Regions from separate parts of the Homo sapiens genome. Here regions 1 and 2 are each linked to region 3. The links come from fine-mapping of genetic effects on gene expression. A gene starts in region 3. Each other region holds a variant in brackets. All regions are shown on one strand. Distances are between the middles of the regions.

Region 1 (2,756 bases), 130 kb before region 3:
TTCTTTCCTTTCCTCCCTCCTCTTCTCAGTTTGCTCTCTCCCTTCTGTCTGCTTTCTCCCCTTCCCTCTCCCCACCTTGTCCCCAGATTAGAGGTCTAAAGATAGAGTCTCCAGGCCCACTTCAGGTGGGTGGTTTTGGGTTTGCTTGAGGCCACCTAGAATTAGAAAGTCTAGAGTCTTCCTCATAAGAGGCTCACTCTGGTGACTTATAATCAACTGCTTATGTTTATTGGCTTACTGTGTGCCAGGCCCTGTGCTAAGCGCTTTACATGCCTTATGTCTTTTAATCCTTACAACTACCAAGTGAGGCAGAGATGATGATCCCCGTCGTATTACAGGAGGCTAAATAACTTGCCCAAGGCCTACGCAGTCCTCAGCCAGCAAGTGGCACAGCTGGGATTTCAATCTAGATCTGTCCGAAGCCCACCGGTACTCTTGAGTCTTTCCTATATGGCCTGTGACAGAGCCTGCGGGAGCATTTAGGTGTCCACAGAGGGGCATGCATTTGCTCAAATTCAGAGAACAAATTCTTGACTCTGAAAGAAGGGCTTCCAATCGAGGAATCTTCCCTCCCAGGCCTGCACTCTGGCAGCACCTCCGGGACTGGCCTTTCTACAGCATCAGCCTTGGGGCCCGCCAAGGCTCTGAGCCCATCTGGTTCTAGGCAGCTGCCCACCTGTAGGAGAGACACTGCATCGGTATGGGGGGTGGTGACAGGGCCCATCTGAAGGTACTTGCCTTTTTTCCTAGTTATTGTTTTGTCTCTGGCCACCTCAATTTTTCATTGAATCGAGTCTTCCACTTAAAGAAGCATATCATTTGCAAAGAGCATTACTTTTGTCTCCTCACAAGACTGCTTGGGAGCTTGGATATGCTGCAGGCTCAGTGACGGGTGGAACTCTGGAAGAAGTGGGGAGGGAGGCAGAGACCGGAGCCAGGAGACCCAGGTTCAGAGGTACATATCCACCAGAAGAAAAAAAGGAGCTGGCCTGAGGGCCAGAGGGAGGTGGCCTGGAGAGAGGGAGGAATAGGAAACCTGCTCTCACCCCATGTGCAGCCCGGGAGTCCAGACTCCCTCCCAGTCAGGGCTGCTGGTCTCAGACTGTCACTCAGGAATCTGGGCAGCTGCAGTCAGCTTGTTGAGCCTCCACCCACCCCAACCGAGACCATTATGTTGGTCAGCCTGGCTCAGCCCAGCCACCTGCCTGCCTGAGCAGGTGGCTCAGTCAGAAGGGACCTTGGTGAAGGAGTGGTGGCTTTGAAACTTCTATCCACAGAGCCACTCTTCATAGGCAAGGGAGCAGAAGTTCAATTTGTGAAACACCTAAAAGGGGGAGCAGCTTAGCACCCCACCCCATTCCCCTCCCTCCTAGGGTTCCCTAAGGCTGGGCCTCTCAAACTTTGTTTCCCCCTAAGAGCAACAAAGGTGAGCATGCTAAAAAGCAAAATAAAACAAAACAAAACCTGTGTGCCATGGCTCATGCCTGTAATCCCAGCACTTTGGGAGGCTGAGGCAGGTGGATCACCTGAGGTCAGGGGTTCGAGACCAGCCTGACATGGTGAAACCCTGTCTCTACTAAAAATACAAAAATTAGCTGGGCATGGCTGCATGCACCTGTAATCCCAGCTACTAGGGAAGATGAGGCAGGAGAATCGCTTGAACCTGGGAGGCGGAGGTTGCAGTGAGCTGAGATCACACCATTGCACTCCAGCCTGTGTGACAGAGTGAGACTCTGTCTCA[A/AAAAACAAAAC]AAAACAAAACAAAACAAAACAAAACAAAACAAAAAAAACAAAAAAACCCAGCACTCTTTTTCCAGACCTCACCCAAGAGATTCAAACCCAGCTGCTCCATGGGCGGGGTGGGGGGTGGGCGTCAGATCCGAGGTAGGGCCCCGGAAGCAGCCTGCTGTAACAGTCTCCCCATCGAGATGATTGGGACACAGATGGTTCTCAGATTGCCCTTGTAGAAGGCTGGCCTCAGATGTTCATGAACTTCTGAAATATGGCATGCACAATGTTAAGAGTGTGCATTGTCCCTAGGAGAGGATCCACAGGCACCGTCTGTCTTGGAGTCACAACCCATACAACTTTAGAACTGCTGTCTTCAGGGTTGTTTTGCGCAGTTGGAGCCTAACGTCTAGAGAAAGGTCACCAGGGAGCCAATGGCAGAGCTGGGTGGAGAGGGCTGGTCTCTCATGCCTCTCAGCACATTACTGGCTTTGCTGTGAAGGTGGTCAGGGACTGTAGACCTGTCCCTCTGTCTGGGCCTCAGTTTTCCTAGCTGTAAAATGGGGGTTGGACAGGATAATCCCAAGTTTCCATGCAGCTTTGATCTGTGGTTCTGGAAGTCAGGTCTCCTGCTGCCCAGTCCAAGTTCTTTGTCCTTTTCCTTGCTCCTCCCTGGCTTCACCCACCACTGGGGGGACCTCCCACTTTTGCATCTTCCATCTTCAGAGATTCTGGACACAGCCTGCATTCTGGCCCCTTGAGTCCCTTCTGTCTGACCACATGCCCAAATGCTCAAGTCCTTTCTCCCTTTCCGTCCCCACTCACCATAATTGAGCAAGGTGCCTGTGAATCTGGGGAAGCTCAAGGTGACCTCTGTTCAGAGCTGGACATGTGGGTCAGTGCCAAGGGGAGGGCTGCGAAAACTAATTTCCTGAGGCTCCTGGGACACACCCAGTGCTTCCTATGTCTTTGCCCTAGCTCCCTCTGTTCCTCCCTGCCAAGAATGCCACCCCCTCCATTCCCCAATCACTGTTGAAA
Region 2 (2,756 bases), 57 kb before region 3:
CGCCCCGGGGTGTGCTTCAGCCTCATAGCTGCTCTGCTTCCCTCCTTAGAAACATGGCCGGGGCCAGGTGCTGTTTGACCTGGTCTGTGAACACCTCAACCTCCTAGAGAAGGACTACTTCGGCCTGACCTTCTGTGATGCTGACAGCCAGAAGGTACCTGGGCTAGGGAGCAGGGTGGGACCTGCTCTTCCGTTAGGCTCCTGTAATCCTGGCCACCCCCAACAGCATCCATTAGTGCTCAAATCATTAAGCATCTTCTGTTTGCGTGTCCCCAAGGCTCAACCAGCCCTATCCACCTGCGGTTCCCTGTCTCAGCCATTTCTTGGTGACATACAGGTCACCCCCAGATGAGAATTTAGAGAGCCCTGGTCTGGCTGCTAGAGTTGCTGGGGGAGCTGAGGAGCTCCCTGCTAGAGCTTCTCCCCTACCCTTGGGAGGCTCTGAGTTTCCTTCTTCCTGCCAGTCCCATTGCAGATGCATCACCTGCTCACTGGGACTGCCTCAGGGCAGTGGCAGCTCCGGGCACTGGGTCCAAGCCTGGTGGTGAATCCTGGCCCCATTCCCCTCACCCCCTAGTCCCAAGGAAAAGGAACCAAGAGGCTTAGCCAAGGAAGGGCGTTCCCTACAAGGGGCTGCTGACCAGCCATTTCAGGATATTTCTCTCTCTCAGCCCAGTCAGGTCCTTTCCTGCGTCTTCCCTCTGAAGATCTCTATCTTTTCTTTTAGAACTGGCTGGACCCCTCCAAGGAGATCAAGAAGCAGATCCGGAGTGAGTGGCTTGTTGTGTTTGGGGAGGTGGGTGGGTGAGGGGATTCCAGGCCATGAGAGCCCCCCTTGTACTGCTCTCTCCTCCTTTGGAAAGTGCATTTCAGGCCAGGCGTTGTGGCTCATCCCTGTAATCCCAACACTTTGCGAGGCTAAGGCGGGTGGATCACTTGAGGTCAGGAGTTCAAGACCATCCTGGCCAACATGGGAAAAGCCTGTCCCTACTAAAAAAAAATACAAAAATTAGCTGGGCGTGGTGGCGGGTGCTTGTAATCCCAGCTACTCGGGAGGCTGAGGCACTGGGACTGCCTCAAGCGATTCTCTTGGACCTGGGAGGCAGAGGTTGTGGTGAGCTGAGATCATGCCACTGCACTCCAGCCTGGGCAACAGAGCAAAATTTCATCTCGAAAAAAGAAAAAAAAAAAAAAAGAAAGAAAATGCATTCAGATCCATGAGTCCGTGTACTCCACATGGCAGATCTTGGGAGAAGCCAGAGTGGGAAGGACAAGTCTAAGGCCCAGAGAAGAGAGACGACTGTGCAGAGTCACACAGCAGGTTAGCAGAGGAATCATAAATACATTCAGGACGCCAGCTCTAGAAGGGACCTGCAGAGCCATCTAGGACAAAGGACAAGCAGATGGGCTGGAAACAGCCACCCTTCTGTCCAGGAATGGTGTAGTCTTCAGTAAACAATGACCCTTTCCTCAGAGGCCCAGAGAGAGGCAGTTATTACCTAAGGTCACAGAGCCAAATGTTGGCTGAGCCAGGTCTTGAGGCCTGGTCTTCCAACACCATCCTGTGCTCTTTTCAAGGCCTGGGGTGAAGGCAGATGAGCAGGCCAACAACCTGTCCTTTCTGGCCCAGAGAGAGAAAGCATGTCGGGAAGGGATGGGGCAGCTCCCA[A/G]ATGGCAGAAGGGGGTGGTAGGTGGCCTCAGCAAGGCAGCCTGAGTAGTTGGAGACCTGGCGCCTCGAGGCAGAGATGCCTCCACCCAGGGCCCCTCCCCCTTGGCTGTGGTTGGTCTCTCCTGAACTCCCTGGTCCCCTGGCTGGAAAGCTGTAGCTGAGCCTGTTACCATGACAGCGGGCAGCTGGGCCCAGGGATGCCAGCTGACTCTGCAGGAGGGGGCTCGAGGAATTCTTCCTGAAGGTTCTGTCAGTTGGAGACAAAGAGGCAGGCACACAGACAGAGTGCACTCCTCGGGGGGCTGACAGATCCTCCGCCTGGGCTTCAGGCTGTCCCCCAGGAGCCCCAGCCTGGCTGGGAGGCCTGTCTCTCATGACTAAAGGGATCGGAAAACATATAGGCAGCCGAGTGTGTGGTGTTTGGTCAGGACCAGGAGCTTGGGAAAGACAGGTGGCTGGACCAAATGGTCAGGTCTCAGCATCCCTCCCAGAGGTGGCCTGCAGCCCCTGCCAGCACAGCCCAGGCCTGGTGGATGTCACTCCTTGTAGCCATCCCAAGTCATCGAGTAAGTCTTGATCGCTAGCAAGTACCTTATCCAGGAGAGCCACAGTCTCTGCCTCTACCCCTGTAACTTCCAGCCATTTATCCTCATCCTACCTTCTGGTGCCCCAGTGGAGCAATTTTTTGCCCTCTGTGACAGCACCTCAGCCTTCTGAAGGTGGTCCCATTGGTCCTTGTGGCCTGAGCTTCAGAGTTGGGTGTATCTCCTCCCAAACCTCAGTGCACCTGGGGCAAGGTAGGGCAAAGTAGGGCACCTGGGACAAGCTTTCCACCCCTCTGGGCCCCTGCTTCTCCTTGGCCAGTGGATTAGTAGTTCCTGCCTCATGAAGTGGGGGTGACAGTTCAATGACATATGTATGGACAGCACCAAGCACATAGTAGGTGCTCAGTAGCTGTTTTCTTCTTGCTTCCCTGAGGCAATCTGGTGTGATGGTTAAGCAGACAGACACTGAGGCCAGACTGCCTGGATTTGAATGTTAACTCCACCTGCTTCTTGTGTTGACTGTGCCTTGGTTTCCTCCTCTGT
Region 3 (2,715 bases):
TGCAGCAGCTCATTGTGATTAACCATGACTGCAGGGCCCGGTCTAGTCTGCAACCCACTAAGAGATAAATTTTGACCGAGACAGATTGGCGTGTCCAGCTGTCACTGAGGAAATGTGACAGACAAGCTAAGGAGCAGCAGCACAAGAGATAAGAACAGACAGCCCTTGGTTTGCATTCTAGCTCTGCCATTCTCTGGCTGTGTAACATCTCTTTGAACCTCAGTTTTCTCTTCTGCAAATTGGGAATACACATACCTTACAAGGGTTAGTGCAAGGATTATAAATACCCAAGTGGGCCGGGCACGGTGGCTCATGCCTGTAATCCCAGCACTTTGAGAGGCCAAGGTGGGCAGATCACCTGAGGTCAGGAGTTCGAAACCAGCCTGGCCAACAAGATGAAACCCCGTCTCTACTAAAAATACAAAAATTAGCCAGGCACGGTGGTGGGCGCCTGTAATCCCAGCTACTTGGGAGGCTGAGGCAGGAGAATGGCTTGAACCCAGGAGGTGGAGGTTGCAGTGAGCCGAGATAGCGCCATTGCACTCCAGCCTGGGTGACAGAGTGAGATTGCGTCTCAAAAAAAGAAATACCCAAGTGGCCTGCCCTAAAATCACATAAGCCAATTCTTGGCAATAAATCACTTAATATAGATCTCCTACTGGCTCTGTATCTTTGGTGGAACCCTGATTAATAGTGCAGGGTTAGACCCACAAATAGTTATTTATTAATACCAAATTATCATCATTATTAATTAAATGCATAATATATGTACTCAGCTGAGCTTTTGTGCCTGGCTTTGTGCTCGGTTCCAGGGAAACAGTGAGGAACAAGACAGGCAGATTCCTTCCCTAGTGCGTTGATAGCCTGACTGAGATGTTAGGACTTGGCCTGCAGGAAGGACACGGGGTGATAATGGCCAGAGGGACTGAGGTGGCGACCGCTGCTGCTGCAGCAGCGGAGGCTGACGCTGGTTCTCTCTGGGCTGGTGGCTGGGTTTCTGAGGCTCTCCCCGAGGGCTGAGTGTGACTGGAAGCTGAGACACTGTGACCGGGATAGAGACTGGCTGACAAAGACAGTGACCGAGCGCCTGACTGGCTACTTCTGAATAGTAGCCACTGGTACAAGCCTTGGCTGTGCTTTAGTGACCATGACTGCTTGAGCCCAAAGTAAGATGGCTGGTGGCTGTGTTTCTGGACGGGGATATAAAATGCATAGGTTAATGAAAGTTGTTCACAATTCAGAAGCTAAAACGAGAAACTAAGAATAACAAAAGGCAACCTTGCATCCGGCGGAACCTGCAGGCACGGGCCATTCTTCCCGCGACCCAGGGCTCTGCCGGACCGCTTCCCCCGTCGCTCCAGTCAGACGCCAAAGCTGGAGAACTTCCGGTGCGTTTCCGCTGTACCGGAACGTGGGGCGAGGCGGTGAGTGTGGCCTCCTGGCCTCTTTTTCCTTTCCTGATTCCTTGTGTATGTGTGGCTGGGCCGCCCCTCTTCTCGGCTCAGAGTCACGGAGTGCCTTGAACTAGGCCCACCTCGCCGGGGCGGCTGGTTCTCTGTTTGTGGGACGCTGGTGTCTCTGGAGGCCCTTCCTGAGAAGCCGTCGCCAGAGTTACGTCGCGGTTTTCTTAACTTTAGAGCCTGGGGGCCGGAGACCCTGATTGCACTCGACCTGGCTCTGCCCTACTCTCTGCGTGACTTCCAGTAAGGTCTTTCCCCGAACTGAGGCTTTGTTTCTCGTTTACAAAATGGATATCATACTTGTATTAAATAAATGTTTACTAAGCGTTGAATCTGTGCTAGGGATACAGCAGGACTCAAGTCTCGTGGCGATGACAGCCTTCAATCAAACATCCAAAACTGCAGTTGTGATCATTGAGACGGAAAGGTACAAGGCACCCCAGATTATATCACAGGAGACCTGACCTAGCCCCAGGGCAAGGAACCTTTACTGAGGAGGTGAATATTGAGCTGAGATCAGAAAAAAGGATTTGACAAAGTGGGGAGGGAAGAGTTTTCTATATGGAGACAGCCTCCAATTTCAGGTTCTGAAAGAGGCCGTTGTGGCTGGAACAGAGAGCTTGTGGGGGACCATTGTGTGACACAAGCTAAAGGGGTTGCCAGGAGTCAGACCGTGCAGGCTTTGTAGGTAATAGGAAGAATTCTGGTTTTTCAAGAACCATATGGGAAACCACTCAGAAGCTGACATGGGTGGTGTTGTGATTAGATTGGCATTTTGAAAAGGTTACTGCTGTTGAATGGAGAATGGGTTGAGGAGCAAGCACTCTGAGTGAGGGACGATGGTAGCTTGGATTAGGGAGGTGGTGGAGAGAAGTGGATGGATGTGACTTTAGGTGTTCCAGGACTGTGAGGAACTCACAGAGCTGTCAGTGACAGGGGCTGGTAGACTGCAGAGTTCTATGCATATTTAATAAACGTTTTCCTAGCATCTCCTCTGTGCTAGGCCCTGTGCCAGCTGCTGGAGATATAGTGAATAGAATTACAGACTGGTGGAATTAGCATGAAAGAAACGTCATTATCAAGGAGGAGCACACAGATGTCACAAGGGAAAATGGCTAATTGATGAGCTGTTATTGTAAATGGAATATCTGTTCATTCAGCAAATATTAAATACTTTCTGAATTCAGGATTACAAATAGGAAGATGATACGTATTATTATTATTATTATTATTATTATTATTATTATTATTATTA

Evidence for each region.
Region 1: its variant is fine-mapped to the expression of AAR2 in whole blood (INTERVAL, PIP above 0.99).
Region 2: its variant is fine-mapped to the expression of AAR2 in whole blood (INTERVAL, PIP above 0.99).

Annotation. Positions count from the first base shown.
Region 1 is chr20:36,100,265-36,103,020 of GRCh38, forward strand. It overlaps a transcript of EPB41L1 not described here. Among named protein-coding and RNA genes, the nearest start is that of NORAD, 51 kb to the left of the region's middle. The variant A/AAAAACAAAAC (reference allele first, on the strand shown) is at 1,742.
Region 2 is chr20:36,177,903-36,180,658 of GRCh38, forward strand. EPB41L1 (erythrocyte membrane protein band 4.1 like 1) reads left to right here. Exons shown (of 22, transcript NM_012156.2): 4 at 50-154; 5 at 728-770. The region is part of intron 2 of LOC124904892 (a long non-coding RNA gene); the gene reads right to left. Among named protein-coding and RNA genes, the nearest start is that of EPB41L1-AS1, 24 kb to the left of the region's middle. The variant A/G (reference allele first, on the strand shown) is at 1,670.
Region 3 is chr20:36,235,080-36,237,794 of GRCh38, forward strand. It overlaps AAR2 (AAR2 splicing factor), which reads left to right and starts at 1,399. Exons shown (of 4, transcript NM_001271874.2): 1 at 1,399-1,424. LOC105372602 (a long non-coding RNA gene) reads right to left here and starts at 1,387. Exons shown (of 3, transcript XR_936695.2): 1 at 1,279-1,387.